Homo sapiens: one gene and its partners. The protein of the gene in region 2 purifies or fractionates together with the protein of the main gene of each other region. This does not show direct contact. Each region holds a gene or a part of one and is shown on either strand. Other genes may lie near its edges.

Region 1 (3,500 bases), on a different chromosome or scaffold from region 2:
GGGCAGATCACCTGAGGTCAGCAGTTTGAGACCAGCCCGGCGAATGTGGTGAAACATGTCTCTACTAAGAATACGAAAATTAGCTGGGTGTGGTCACACATGACTGTAGTCCCAGCTGCTCGGGAGGCTGAGGCAGAATTGCTTGAACCTGGGAGGCAGAGGTTGCAGTGAGCGGAGACCATGGCATTGCACTTCCGCCTGGGCAGCAGAGTGAGACTCCGTCTCAAAAAAAAAAAAAAAAAAAAAGACCATTAAACCTGATGCTTCATAAGCAAGGCAAGTTTATATAGGCTGGGAGGGAGGGTGTAGGGAATAAGAGGCATCAGAGGTGACCCATCTGGATGTACTAGGTTTGGGGCAGCCCCTGGCCTCCCTCCGATCCAGCTGGGCAGACTTGGCTCGGGGTTGGCTTAAGGATCCCATTCTTCCAGGTGTGAAGAGGCAGGCTGCGGGGGCTTGCTGCGACCTCACGTCGTGTGGTTTGGAGAAAACCTGGATCCTGCCATTCTGGAGGAGGTTGACAGAGAGCTCGCCCACTGTGATTTATGTCTAGTGGTGGGTCATGCCCTTCCCTAACCCCAGGACAGGACTGGAGTTTGTTATTTTTTCCTTCCCCCTCTCCTCTTTTCCTTCCTCCCTCCCTTGCTTCTTTCCTTCCCGCCTTCTCTCCTCCCTCCATTTCTTCCTTTCCTTCAAATGTATGTTGAGAGGTCTTTGTGGTATCCTATAGAAAAACTGAGAAACAATGAATAAGAATTTGTATTAAAATAGGAAACCATGCATGTCTTGGGCATCTCAAAGCCTCCTCCCCCAGCCCCACCAAAAACAAAGAAAAGAACATGCTATTGGTTTTTTAAATAATACATGCTTATGATTAAATTTAATTGAGAACATGCAAAAATTATCACATTATAAAGAGGAAATTAGAAATCGCCCATAGTTCTGCTATCCAGAAATAGTTACCGTTAGCAGTTTAGTATGTTTTCTTCTAGACCCAGGAGTGAGCAAACAGCAGCCTTTGGGCCACATTGGGCCTGCTACCTGTTTTTGGAAATAAAGTTTTATTGGAACTCAGCCACACTCATTCTTCCACACACTGTCTATGACTACTTTCAAACTACAAGTGGCAGAGTTGAGTACTTGTGACAGAGATTGAATGGCCTGCAAAGCCTGAAAAATTTACTGTATGGTCATTTTCAGAATAAGTTTGCCCACCTCTGGTCTAAACCTTTTCTTATGCAGATGTACACGTATTAATTAAAATTCAAAACTGAGTTCATGACATATGTTCTGTTTTGAAACTACTTTGTTCACGCAGCAGTTCACTTAGCATGTTCCATATCAATATGTCTAAATCAATATCATCTTTCAATTGACTGTATGGTGTTATATATGGATAAGGAATGATATATTTAGCTAATTCTCTACTGTAAGACATTTGGGCTATTTCAAATTTTGATAGTTTAATCAATGATATCGTGAATATCCTTAGATAGAAATCTTAGCATGCTCTTCAAATGATTTCCTTAGGACACATTTCCTAAAAGTGGGATTCATTGGACAGATTGTATGCGTATTTCAAATTTTTCTTGACACGTCTTTAAAAGCAGAGGCACTTTCTTGTGGTGCGTATTCATTCAGCCAGTATTTAAAGAATGCTTCCCAGTGTTGAGTATAGTGCCACTGTTGATGATGGATTGTTAAATGAGAAAAGCCGGTTTACAAAACAGGTCATGCTCTTCCCATCCCTGTAAAGAATGTTTATAAGCAAATATTTATAAGAGAAAACCTAAGAGGACATACATGAAAATGTTAACAGTGGTTATCTTGCGGTAAGATTATGGATGATATGTATGTTTTTTTCTTCGTATTTTCTACCTTAAACAAAAAGATAGAAAATATGTTTTAAAAAGTTATGGATCATTTGTTTAACTTTAAAAAGCAGAAACAAAACCAGAATTAACCCCAAAACATGTTGATTGAGTCACTTCTATGTCACTCTTTGCATAACTCTCCTTTTCATGTCACATATTCTTCTCGATTCTAGTGATTGATCAAAGGACACCTCTTCACTTTCCCTTGTCCCTTGGACACCCTGTTTTATCCCATCCTGTTTGGCTTTTCTCACACCTGCAACCACAGACCTGCCTGAGTTTGTGTAAGGTTTTCTGAAATAATGTTCCTTCTCCTTGTCGTCTGGCTGTTTGTTCATCTCCGTGTACTTGCCTTGTAGGTGGGCACTTCCTCTGTGGTGTACCCAGCAGCCATGTTTGCCCCCCAGGTGGCTGCCAGGGGCGTGCCAGTGGCTGAATTTAACACGGAGACCACCCCAGCTACGAACAGATTCAGGTACTGGGATACCCTGATGGGAGAGGGAGATGTGGGAGGCAGGTACAGACATGGTCATCTAAACATAGTTGACCTACTCCTCTAATTTTTAAAAAAGACATAGGGTTTGTGTTTTTTTGTTTGATCTGCAGTTGCTTTTATGGAAGAACAAAATCATTCACTGTAGACTAAGGTAGGGTAGCTCTGTCATTGTATGCGAAATTTGCCGTGGGACTTTTGTTTGTTCACATTTTGAACGCTCTTCTTGGATTCCTTAGGCTTTGCTTTCCCTTACATTTTTAAGCTAGACTTAGTGATGACCTGTAGTTGTAGGTTACCCAAATGCTCCGCAAGTAAGCCTGGGAGATGCCCTTGCAGAACCTCATCACCTGCCGTTCTTACTGGGAGGCCACCTGGCAGATACCCCTTTGGTCTAATCGCCAAGGTTATTTGTATCTGTGGCCATATTATGACACTGATCCTGCTTCCCAAGTTTGGGTGGGAAGTGTAGATTGTCATAGTATGCATTTTTAGTCTTATTCCTGGGTCTGTTTTATTTCTTCATCCATGTTCTGTCTTTTTTCTCACCCCAACTTTTTTTTGCTTTTACCTCTAATTCTTGTCCATCTAGTTAATTCCTTTTGAATAAGTTAGAATATAAATAAGTAGTAAATTAATATAAATGAATAAAATAGAAAACTTCATTGAACCATCTTGTCATTACTTTAATCAACAGTTTCCAACCTTGGCTGCATATTTTAAAAATACTGATGCCTGGGTGCCACCTCATGAAATTTCGATGTCATTGCTCTGAGTTGCAGCCCAGACATCATCATTTTGATAAGCTTCCTAGGTGATTCCTGTGTGCAGCCAGGATAGGAACCACTCTTCTAAGTCTTTGCTGGGATTTAAAAAAAAAAAAGAAAAAAGAAAGAAAAGGGGCCACAGACACTTCAGTAGGCCCCTCCTCAAGTGAGTGAACTGGCTCTGAGCCTCTTCTTTTCCATGTGTCTTTTTGATCAGCTACAGCCTGTGTTCTTGATCCATAGTTCTTCATCTGTGTGTGAGTAGTAGGAACTAAGAAGATAGCCTTAAAAAAAAATTGCCTCCTATGCAAAACTTATACTCTGAAAACTACAGAACATTATTGAAAGAAATAAGGAAGGCCTAAA
Region 2 (4,150 bases):
TGGTGACTATGCTAGTTTACACTGCTTTAATTTAGGCTGAAAAGTAGAGGATCTAGATATGTCTACTACTCAGAAAAGAAAGGGAGAAAGCACACAGCACAAATAAGGCATCAGTATTTACTTCAAAGATCAACATTAGGTGGAATTAATAAGTAATTTATTTGTTAATAATGGCGTAATTAGTGTACCCATCAAATTTCAATTACCAAATAGCAGGCAACAGTCTCCTCTCCCTCCTTTCCGGAGCTTCTGATATCGTTAATACGCTAATTTTCAGCAATTCAGAAATTATAGACTGTCCTGCAAATATAACTCTAGCCTCAGATACTGCCTGAGAAAGCAGGATCTAAAAGAGAAAACATGAAATTCTTAGCTGGAAAAGACCCATCAGCGATCAGACCCGGCAAGGTGTTTATTCTACCCTTAGCTTGTTTTTGTTTGGGGATAGTTCTGAAATAGGAAGTTATTGTTTTCAAAGCTCGGTTCTGTGGAGGTGTTGCTTCTATCCATTCCCATCCTTGGGCCACCTTCTCTCTCACAATCGCACCTAGTAAATGCGGGCATATTTAGCTCTCACATCGACAACCCCCGTCAAATTAGATGCTATTACGAAGGTTCCAATTTTTCTTAGGAAAACACGAAACAGATTGTCTCTGAAAGAAGGAAAAAATGAAAAGTGTCCATCCAGTTATAATGGAATGGCCTCGATTTACATCCTTGGGTCGATTTCTCTTAGCTGCCCGCCCACCCTTTGCAGCTTCTGCCAAGCTTCTCAAAGCAAGGGCTCTCAGGCTGACACGCAAGGAGCAGGGTGTGGGGAAGGGGGATCTGCGGTTGAGAAAATGTGTCTGGTGGCCTCTCAGTGGCGTACATAAAAACCAGGATGCCCCTCGGTCCCAACGCCCTTCCTTTCGCCTGTTAGCCTAGAACCCCTGAAGGACACGAAGCCTGACTGGGTTGCGCCCGAGGTCAGCGCTGAGTCGCGGCCGCCAGACAGCCCGAGGCCTAGGCCAGCAGTAGGGCAGGCAGAGGGCTCCCGAGAGGACCTACAGCCTGACAGGGCCTGAATTCCCAGCGGGAACCAAAGCTGGGGGGCTGGGGTCCAAAGCTCCTGCTCCCTCCCCCAGCCCAGGGGCCGGACAGCAGCATCCATCACGCACCCGCGCGTTTCCTGATCCGGGTCCGCGCGCGCGGTGCGCCCATTGGTGGGGGCGCTGCACGTGGGGCACGGGGCGGGGCGCGCGCTGGGCTGGGGAGGAGCGGCTCGAACTTTGGTGGCGGCGTCTGCGGGAGGGGGAGGAGTGGGCACTTGACAGCGGGGGGAGGGGAAGGGCGCAGAGGAAAGGGGGATGGGAAGCGAGGCAGGAGGGGGAGGGGCCTCGGCAAGCCCAGAAAAAACGACAACGCGAGAAAAATTAGTATTTTTGCACTTCACAAATTAATGACCATGAGCTCGTTTTTGATAAACTCCAACTACATCGAGCCCAAGTTCCCTCCCTTCGAGGAGTACGCGCAGCACAGCGGCTCGGGCGGCGCAGACGGCGGCCCGGGCGGGGGCCCCGGCTACCAGCAGCCCCCAGCGCCCCCGACCCAGCACCTGCCGCTGCAGCAGCCCCAGCTCCCTCACGCGGGCGGCGGCCGAGAGCCCACTGCCTCCTACTACGCGCCGCGGACCGCCCGCGAGCCCGCCTACCCTGCTGCCGCGCTGTACCCCGCGCATGGGGCCGCGGACACCGCCTACCCCTATGGCTACCGCGGCGGCGCCAGCCCCGGGCGGCCGCCCCAGCCCGAGCAGCCCCCGGCGCAAGCCAAGGGCCCAGCGCACGGCCTGCATGCGAGCCACGTCCTGCAGCCCCAGCTGCCGCCGCCCCTGCAGCCTCGCGCCGTGCCCCCAGCGGCCCCGCGGCGCTGCGAGGCGGCCCCCGCCACCCCAGGCGTCCCGGCAGGGGGCAGCGCCCCCGCGTGCCCGCTGCTCTTGGCCGACAAGAGCCCGCTGGGCCTGAAGGGCAAGGAGCCCGTGGTGTACCCCTGGATGAAGAAGATCCATGTCAGCGCCGGTACGTGGCGCCGCTTGGGAGGCGCGGGAGGTGGGCCGGGGCTGGGCCTGGGTTCGAGGGTCGGGGTCAGGAGGGAGAGGCTCAGGGGAAGGGGGCCTCGGGAGGGGAGCCCCCATCTGACCCGGGCTGCGGTGAGATGTGGGTATGTGCGCGCCAGCCAGCCGCCTGATCCCAACATGAGAACCCTTTTGTACCCAGGGTCCCTTTATCAGGAGATTTACGAGACGCCAAACTGTTAGGGCAGTAATTATAGCCCCCATAAATTTAATTGCCCTGGCAGAGGCTTCAGGCCATGTGTCTTTGAAGCTTTTCTTCAGCCCCAATGCCCAGCACCATTCTTTATGGCTCTCGGGTGTTTCCCGTTGTCAATAGCCTGTGAAACATTTTCTTTGCCGTTTTATGTATCTTGCGTGAACTTGGTGTCAGGTTATTATATAATGATGATGTCCAATTGCTCTTCCCCACCCCACCTTCTCTCTCCTCCTCCTTTCCCTCTCTTCCGCTCCCTCCTCCTTGGCCTTCTATTTCGGGGTTCTGGGTTTTCAGTTAACCCCAGTTATAACGGAGGGGAGCCTAAGCGCTCTCGAACCGCCTACACCCGGCAGCAGGTCTTGGAGCTGGAGAAGGAGTTCCACTTCAATCGATACCTGACCCGGCGGCGCCGCATCGAGATCGCCCACACGCTCTGTTTGTCTGAGCGCCAGGTCAAGATCTGGTTTCAGAACCGGAGGATGAAGTGGAAGAAAGACCACAAACTGCCCAACACCAAGATGCGATCCTCCAATTCGGCCTCGGCCTCTGCCGGCCCACCAGGGAAAGCACAAACTCAGAGCCCACACCTCCATCCCCACCCCCACCCGAGCACCTCCACACCCGTTCCCTCCTCCATATAATCTTCTAGAGATCTTAACCAGTTTCTATCCCTTACCTGCTTTTCTCTTCTCTTCTCCTGCTCCGTTCCTCATCCACCCCTCCCCATCTGGACCATAATAGACACCAAAACAAACCCAAATTGGTGAAAAGAATAATCAAAAAGAAGACATTATCCGGTTAAGAGTCTGTGCTGGTTGCCACCCAAGAGAGAACAGTTGTCCAGGATGCTGGCTGGTGGAACAACCTGCTGGCCCGAAACAAGGCTGCCAGGTGTGGATACCTGAGAAGGACTACTTGGTATCAAATACTTTTGAGATGGCTACAGTCAGCTAGCTGGACAGCCCATGCTGAGTGGGGACATACACTTGCATCTTTGTTGAAAGCAGAAGAAGACAGACCCTTTCCCCACCTTCCTTACCTCCTCTTCCCCCATTAAGGCAGCTCATCCAAGCTTGTATTTAACTGAATAAATGAGTAGACATTGTGGACCTCACAAGATTATTTAATTCTTAAGATGTGTAGACCTTGATGGTAGGTGTGACATGTTAGTTTTTCTTACTTGCATTTATTTAAGACACTGTTACAGAGATACTGTTGTCCCCTTCTGGGGCACGGTCTTTGGGGAGAGGGGAGTGCATTTAGACTTATGTGGAACTGTACAAATTGTGATGTGGCTACATAGAAAGCCATGTGCTAAGAATAAACTCCATTTAAAAAACATTAAAAATCTAAGATTCATGTGTTTTCTAAGCTTTTCATTAAGAAAACAAAAGTCCTCTGGATTGAGATACTTGACCTTGCATGTAAAAACCTTGTAGATAGCTTGAGCTGGATTCACTTGGATTCTGACGGCTCACATAATTTGTGTGTGAGAGTGTGTGTATGTATGTTCAACTTGAGCTGAACTCTTGTCAAGCTTGGCCTACTGTGGAAAAGTTCCAAAGAGTAGGAAGGCTCTTGAGCTCTGAGAGGGCTCCTCTTCTTCCCAAACTTGGCCAGGCTTTCAGGCTTCAAGTCTCTGTAAGGCATAGAAACGTGTCCTTCCCTGCAATGAAAGTTGAAACCATGCAGTGCTGTGGGCCCAGGAGTTTCTGCAGCTGTTCTACACACTGAACTCTGAGCACACTTGGAAAGAAGTGGTCTCTTTGGTATTTGGTATTTGTTGCACCTTCACACTTAATCTGCCTGTTTCCCAGGAGATAAAAAATAGTTTGTGCAAA
Region 3 (3,500 bases), on a different chromosome or scaffold from region 2:
TGAATATAGTAGGCATATGTATAATCTAATGTTAAAATAAGTTATATAATGGGTAATAATTTTTAGATTTCTTAGATAAGTTACACATTCCCAGGATGAGGTGAACTTTCAAATATCAATTTTAAGGCTATTGATTATATTGGGAAAAATGAACAATGACTTGGATGTTAATGTGTGTGTTTTCCTTTTTTAAGGGTATGCCTTTTTCTGTGTATGGGAATGCAATGATTCCTCCAGTAGCACCTATCCCTGATGGTGCTGGAGGACCCATATTTAATGGCCCTCATGCTGCAGACCCTTCTTGGAACTCACTGATAAAGATGGTTTCCAGCTCCACGGAAAATAATGGCCCTCAAACGGTGAGGCTGATCATTCAGTGAATAAACAGTTGTTTTGTGTTTAAGAAATGCAAAGACAAATAGGATTCAGGTAACTCATGATAGCAAGAGAGTTTGGTGAATATGGGCAGTTGAGGAAATCTAATATAGCTGCAATATAGCAGAGGGCTGTGGGCAGTGGTACCAAAGGCAGGTTTGGGGCTAAAATTATGAAAGGTATTGTATATTCTACTGGGTAGCAGATAATAAATGAAAGATTTTAAGTTGCAAAGTGACTGTCATATGATTTTATACATTAAAGTTTACTAGTGGTGTGAAAAGACCATCTAAAGGTTATTTATTAAAGGTACTATAAATAACTCTGAGAATTCACATAAATGGTTGTATATTTTAGTTTAGTGTATGTTTAATATCTTTGATTTATTTTTCTTCCACAACCGTGAATCTATAAATGCTCAGGTAATGATTTTTTTTTTAAAGGTTGTAAATCAGATTCTGTTTGAGGGATAAGAGGTAGGAAAATAATAGAAAAAAGGTTTTTATCATTTTTTTCCATTAGTTCCTAGTATATTGCAAATTGAAGAGTACCTCCTTAGTTTTTTAAAAGTTTTATTTTAATAAAATATATGCTAGATATATATTTTGTAAAATGCATGCTCTATATTCATAGGTGTGGACTGGACCCTGGGCACCTCACATGAACAGTGTGCATATGAACCAGCTTGGCTGATGAGGATCAGCTTGTTAGCCTGCAGATTCCTTTTCATTTGGAGGAAATCACAAGTGGCCGAAAAAAAAAATTATGCTCCCAAATCATTCTACTGATGTGCTTGACTGAAGTGTGTAGGCTTTTTGCAGAAGATCTTACTAACTGACCTATTTTCTGTGAACATTTGTGACTGCCCATTCCCCATCATCATCCGTTTTACCTTAGTTAGCATTTTTCTTATCATTTTTCTTTTTTTCTTTCCCTCTTCCCCTTTGGACATAACTTTCTGTTGAAGCTGTTCTTTGGCTGGTTGGTTTTAGTACTGTAAACTGCTTCTGAGCAAACACGGAAATTTAGCAAAATTATGTAAACTTGATCCTGAAGTTTTAGAATGGCAAATAAATGTACAATTGTTTACATAACAGAAAAGGCTAAGCAGAAAGTAAATTTCAATATGTCAGTATAGAGGCTCTACTTTATGTAGACTTAAATTAATGTGAGATATGTACCTTCATATTCAGAAATCTGGATGTTTCCTTCATACATTAAACTATTAATAAGCATAACTTTTCTACTGGTGTAATTTAAGTATAAAGTAAAATAATGGGCATTATCATTGGATGTTTCCCCACATTGGCTTTTAAAATACCCATCTTGCTTTCTTTTTGGTTTATTTGTAGCAAGGCACATATAGAAGAAGAAATTTCTGGCTTTTCCATGTTGTTTTATTACCTTTTCTCACTTTTAAAACTAATACAGACTTATCTCCTCACTCCTTTTTCTCTCCTTACCTTTACCACTAATACCAGTAAAATTATCTTTCTGATAGTGAAAAGGTTCTGTCAAGATTTTCACTGTAATGGCTGCTACAGAGATGGACCATCTTCATCATCACCAGTGGTTTCTTCTAATTATAAAATGTTTAAACTTTCTGAGAATTTAAAAAGCCACCACTGTTCCCAGTCAGCATATACAAGCTCTTAATATTCTGTTTATTAAATAATTCAATGTACTATTTTATATTGGATGATATTGATTCTTAACATTGGCTTTTCAGTCATCAACAGTCAACATAAAAATTTCAATTTTCAGTAATTTAGTGGAAAATATCTTATTTCTTTTTTCAATTTTAAAGGCTTCCTGCTTTTTTACCCTTGTATATTATCAGTGAAAAGGATCAACAGTTAATTTGAGCCAAGTAATAAAAGAAATTCTGCATTTGTCACGAAGACAATTTATGGTAGACAGATAAATACACAGATTACAGTGTAAAGTCTCCATTTAACCTGTTTATAAAAGATACAAGGCCACACTAAACTACTCAGTGGGATTTATATATTCCATCCACTTGAAACAATAAACAGTAATGTATCCAAGAAGATTATGTGTCCTACCCTGTCTCATGGAAAAATTAATTATATGGTTGAAATGTAAAAGAAAGTAAGCATAAAAATCGAGTAATGTATATATCAATTTGTCTTCTTTTTTTTTAATTAGACATAAAATTTCACACTGGTAAAACATAAAAACTAACTAAAATTCATATAAATCACCTAGAGTTGATGATATTAACATGGTTCCTTGGTTGTCAAGTAAATCAAATGATTTCTTCCATCTGAGTAAAGAGTAAAGCCTGAGTAAAGAGTAAAAAGATGACTTCTCAAACATATCCAGAAATTTGTAAACAGTACACTCATATCTTTTAGTTTAAGAAGTGGTCTTAAAATATATAAATTTGTTTTTCCACCTATGTTTAATATGCCCAAATTTAAAGGGAGAGCTAAAAGACAGCCTACAAATAAATATAGCTATGAAATAAAATTATAGCACTTTACTAAAAAAGGGATGTAATAATGTTATTTAACGAAGTATTTTATATATGACTTGCCACTATTCTATACATAAAATTTTTTTTCTTAATTCTTTCCTGTGTTAACTAGGGTTATTTTCTATTTAAGGTAATCCTGCTGGAGAACAGATGCTATCCAATATTTATTACAACACATGAGTTGTGTTGTTTCACAATACTGAATTTCTTAGGTGAGGTATTTTATTTAAAAAGGAGGGGGAAAACTCCTATATTTTCTTGACTTCAAACCTGTGGGGCCAGGGGATATAGATTGAAATGCTCCGTATTTAGTCTTGGGGATCAGGCTTGTTTAGTACAATACCATGGTTTTAGAAGTCTGTACTAGGAACATTTTTAAAATACATTTTTTATATTTCAGATGTAATGCAGTGCACTTTTATTTGAACAATAAAAAAACCCATAACTTTTTGAGACCATGAAGGTCTTTTATTTTTTAATTTTGAAAATATGTGGTATGTGTATATGCAGACTACATCATTGTTTTAAGAAATGATTTAACTCTTGGACATTACACTTGGGTTAGTTCACACCTTAAATCCCCAAGTAGTTAATATCTCAATTATTGTATAATCAGTTTATACCA
Region 4 (3,500 bases), on a different chromosome or scaffold from region 2:
CTTCAGAAATGGGCCTGCATCTATGACAATAAGCAGCATCTAAAAAAGTCATAAATTGTTTCAGAAGGTGATTTAGCCTATGGAATAGTTTGATGTTGGTTATCTCTTTTGGATACTTTAGGGTAAGATGATGGCATGCAAACACTGCAGTGACATTTTCAGCAAGGAGGGTGCTTTGAAACTAGCAGCCACAGGCAGAGAGGACCAGGGAATTGAAACAGATGATGAGAAGGACTCACTTAAGAAGCAGCTGAGAGAGATGGAACTGGAACTGGCACAAACCAAACTGCAGTTGGTGGAGGCCAAGTGTAAAATTCAGGTTGGTGATTTGATAAAAGAACAAGAAGAAAGAATAAACAATTAATGGTCCAGGATACTCTAGTACTTCAGAATACACCTATCTAGGTCAGAATTGTATGATGAATACATTTTCTGTCTGCTAATGTGTCCTGCATAATCACATTTTATATCATGTATTCTTAACGCTGATATAAACAAATATATAATTTTAAATGAAATTTTAATAATTAAAATTATATCTTATGGGAATTTAATTAAGCATATGCTTGTTTTTTTTACCCTGAGATTTTTTGCTTACATCCTTTCTCACAGAATGTGGTCACTTCAGTGGCTGATCCTGAAAATGAAAAACCAAACCCCCTCTGCTGTGTCTACCCTGAGAGTCACACATTGGCTGACACCCGTTCTTTCCTTTAGAGCTTCTTTTTATCTTTAGCTCATTTTGTCAAACCTCTTTCCCCATTATCTTTCTCCATATTGGCGCATAATATAATTAGAAATAGTCCTGGCTTCTGATGGACTCTTCTTCATTTCATTTTCCCAGTGATCCCTACCAGCACCATGGCTGCCATGTCACCAGCCTCCACCACACCAGCCAGCTTCCACCATGTGTCTGCTCTGACCTTGGACATTCTTAGGGCAAAGCCTATTTCTTTGGAACTGGAATTCATTCATGCTTCTACTATCAGTAAAAATTCATCCATATGTTTACATTTATTTGTGGTTTTTAAACCTGTTATATCGGATTGCAACCTAAACCTAAATTTGGACCTAACTTGCAGGGAAAAAAAGAATAAAATGAGCTTTTCTTTCACTGTTTAAAGAAAGCACAGATTCTAGATTTTTGATAAGTCTTTTAGCTCTTAACTTTATCCTTGTACTAAGAAGCCAATTCAATCTCTCCTGGGTTTTGTGGGAGGAAAATTGGCAGCACATACCTTGAGACTCCAAAAAGCTGCACACTTTTATTTATTTATTGGCAAAGAGAAAACATTTATTTAACTCAGATGATTTTCTTGCTTTAATTAGGAACTTGAACATCAGAGAGGAGCCCTTATGAATGAAATCCAAGCTGCGAAAAACTCTTGGTTTAGCAAAACCCTGAACTCTATCAAAACGGCCACGGGCACCCAGCCATTGCAGCCAGCACCGGTCACCCAGCCACCCAAGGAGAGCACATAGTTCCAGCCTTACCCAAGCACAAGAGCACAATGTTCAAACCAATGGAAATCTGGGAGGATTCTTCCTGGTGTCCCTTTGAAGGAAAGTCAAGGAGGCCAGAAAACAAGCCAGAATTTTTCAGTAGCTCTCACTCTTTCTTGTATGACACTTTTCAAAGGGATGCTATTTAAACTGACCTGTTCTATGTTGAATACCTATTTTCCAGCTTCTGGAAGGCCATGTTCAGATCCATCATAGTATTACACATTATTTTGTTTGCCTGATGTTTAGTTGGAAATAAGTAATTCAGAACTAAATGCTTTTTTATTTAGAATTATTCATAATTATTTTTATCTTACATAAAAATGGAGACATCTGTTATTCCAAGGTTGAAGTGATAAGAAGATCTTTGTCACAGGAAAAAAAAAATTGAAACCTAAACATCTTAAGTTTTCAGGATTTATTCAGATAAAGCACACTGTGGGGCCAGGCATGACCACTCTCAGGTTTCCTCCTGAGCCTGATTCCCAGGGAAGTGTTAATCCTGTCCAAAGGAAAGAACCAATCAGCGATCATTGGTTTACTTTCATTTTCTGTTCGGTACATCTGGAAATGAAGTGCCAGGAATAGACGGGCTGTTCAGATTATACGCTAGGTAAAAGGAACTGAAATTTTAATAAGTGTAGGTCAGGATCATTTGGGCTGTGGTATTCTAACAGATCCTTTTAAGAATGCCACATAGGACTTGTGAGTTCCTAAGTACACCAAAGTATGGACACAGATGTGACTTCTGGCAATTATAAAGTTAAAGGTGGATATTGCACCTTACAGACTTAGGGAGCCTTTACCAGAGACGCCTAAAAAGCCCCAGGTTCAGCCATTGTGCTGAATAGAGTGGAATATAGAACCAGGGACAGAGTATTTCATTTAACGTTGATATATACTTGCTAAGGAAACACTAACAATACTGTAACTTTGTTAAAGGACATAGTATTGAAATGGGAAATAGAGGTCAGGCTCACATCATCTTAGTTTAATGCTGGGCAACTTTTTCTGATTTCTGTAGTTCCCTGAAAATGTGTCCTTCGTACCCATAAAGAGATACAAATGCATTTGTAACATTTTTGATTGAATATAAAACCTTTACAGAAATACTTATCTCATGGAAAGGTAAAGCTATTGTTTAAAAATTAGTGGAAATATTTTTTCAATTATATTTAACATGCCTATAAAAATAGTCCTTGCAGGAAATTATTTGATAAGAGCAAAACTATTTTTATTTTATAAACTATTTTGGAGGCCTCTGATCCTTTCAAACCAACCAAACTACTATTAGATATGTACAATAACATTTGTTGATATTAATCATTGGCCTCATTGTTGAACATATTATTTGCAAAGAATCTTAAACTCTGTAGTGCCAGAATGATTCTCATCTGTGCCATATTTTGCAATTAAAAGTAACACACCCTTAGAAGAATCAAATAAGAGCCATCTACATCCCAGGAGGATGCACCAAGTTGCTCACAGTGGATCTTTTCCTCTAAAATGATCTTTTATGTTCTAAAAAGTGAAATCCCCTTTATCTGTGTTTATATTCTCTACAGCCCATAAAACTGATGTGATTGTTATGTTATACTCATCAGATAATACTTTTCTTACATAAATCTTTCATTGTTGTTCTGACATCTTTCATTACAAAATTTATTTTCTTAACAAAAAGGAACATAACCCAGCATTCCAAGTGTCTGTGTTGGCTTTAACATTCTCTACATGGTGGTCTAGATAAGCTAATTTTTTTTTTTTTTTTTTTGTAAAATGTAATAGCTAGAAAATGTTATCTTGGCGCTTGTTTTTGTAAATCATTTAGTATAGGCTGTTAGCTTTACTGGTACTTTACGCTTTGATTCCAAGAAGCCTTGTGCAGTTGCCTTATCAAATGGCCAGCTAAATTAAAGATGCTCTTTTGTGTTGTGAATTTCATAGTTCTGTACAGAGCTTGTTTCAATTTACAAAAATAAGTACATTCCACAGAATGC

Evidence for each region. The genes of interacting proteins can lie anywhere in the genome.
Region 1: the proteins of HOXA4 (region 2) and SIRT5 purify together in Homo sapiens (affinity purification with mass spectrometry; one large-scale study listed by BioGRID and IntAct). This does not show direct contact.
Region 3: the proteins of HOXA4 (region 2) and ANKRD17 purify together in Homo sapiens (affinity purification with mass spectrometry; one large-scale study listed by BioGRID and IntAct). This does not show direct contact.
Region 4: the proteins of HOXA4 (region 2) and RABGAP1L purify together in Homo sapiens (affinity purification with mass spectrometry, with the first as the bait; one large-scale study listed by BioGRID). This does not show direct contact.

Annotation. Positions count from the first base shown.
Region 1 is NC_000006.12:13,598,601-13,602,100, forward strand, and holds part of SIRT5 (NAD-dependent protein deacylase sirtuin-5, mitochondrial), read left to right. Parts: intron 1-429; exon of another isoform or gene 430-431; coding exon 432-555; exon of another isoform or gene 556-1,041; intron 1,042-2,233; coding exon 2,234-2,349; intron 2,350-2,480; coding exon of another isoform or gene 2,481-2,520; exon of another isoform or gene 2,521-3,037; intron 3,038-3,500. UniProt on the Homo sapiens protein: NAD-dependent lysine demalonylase, desuccinylase and deglutarylase that specifically removes malonyl, succinyl and glutaryl groups on target proteins.
Region 2 is NC_000007.14:27,128,025-27,132,174, reverse strand, and holds HOXA4 (homeobox protein Hox-A4), read left to right. Parts: upstream 1-1,417; 5' UTR 1,418-1,441; coding exon 1,442-2,057; intron 2,058-2,603; coding exon 2,604-2,950; 3' UTR 2,951-3,650; downstream 3,651-4,150. UniProt on the Homo sapiens protein: Sequence-specific transcription factor which is part of a developmental regulatory system that provides cells with specific positional identities on the anterior-posterior axis.
Region 3 is NC_000004.12:73,073,799-73,077,298, reverse strand, and holds part of ANKRD17 (ankyrin repeat domain-containing protein 17), read left to right. Parts: intron 1-194; coding exon 195-359; intron 360-1,008; coding exon 1,009-1,068; 3' UTR 1,069-3,500.
Region 4 is NC_000001.11:174,988,520-174,992,019, forward strand, and holds part of RABGAP1L (rab GTPase-activating protein 1-like), read left to right. Parts: intron 1-121; coding exon 122-319; intron 320-1,329; coding exon 1,330-1,482; 3' UTR 1,483-3,500. UniProt on the Homo sapiens protein: GTP-hydrolysis activating protein (GAP) for small GTPase RAB22A, converting active RAB22A-GTP to the inactive form RAB22A-GDP. Plays a role in endocytosis and intracellular protein transport.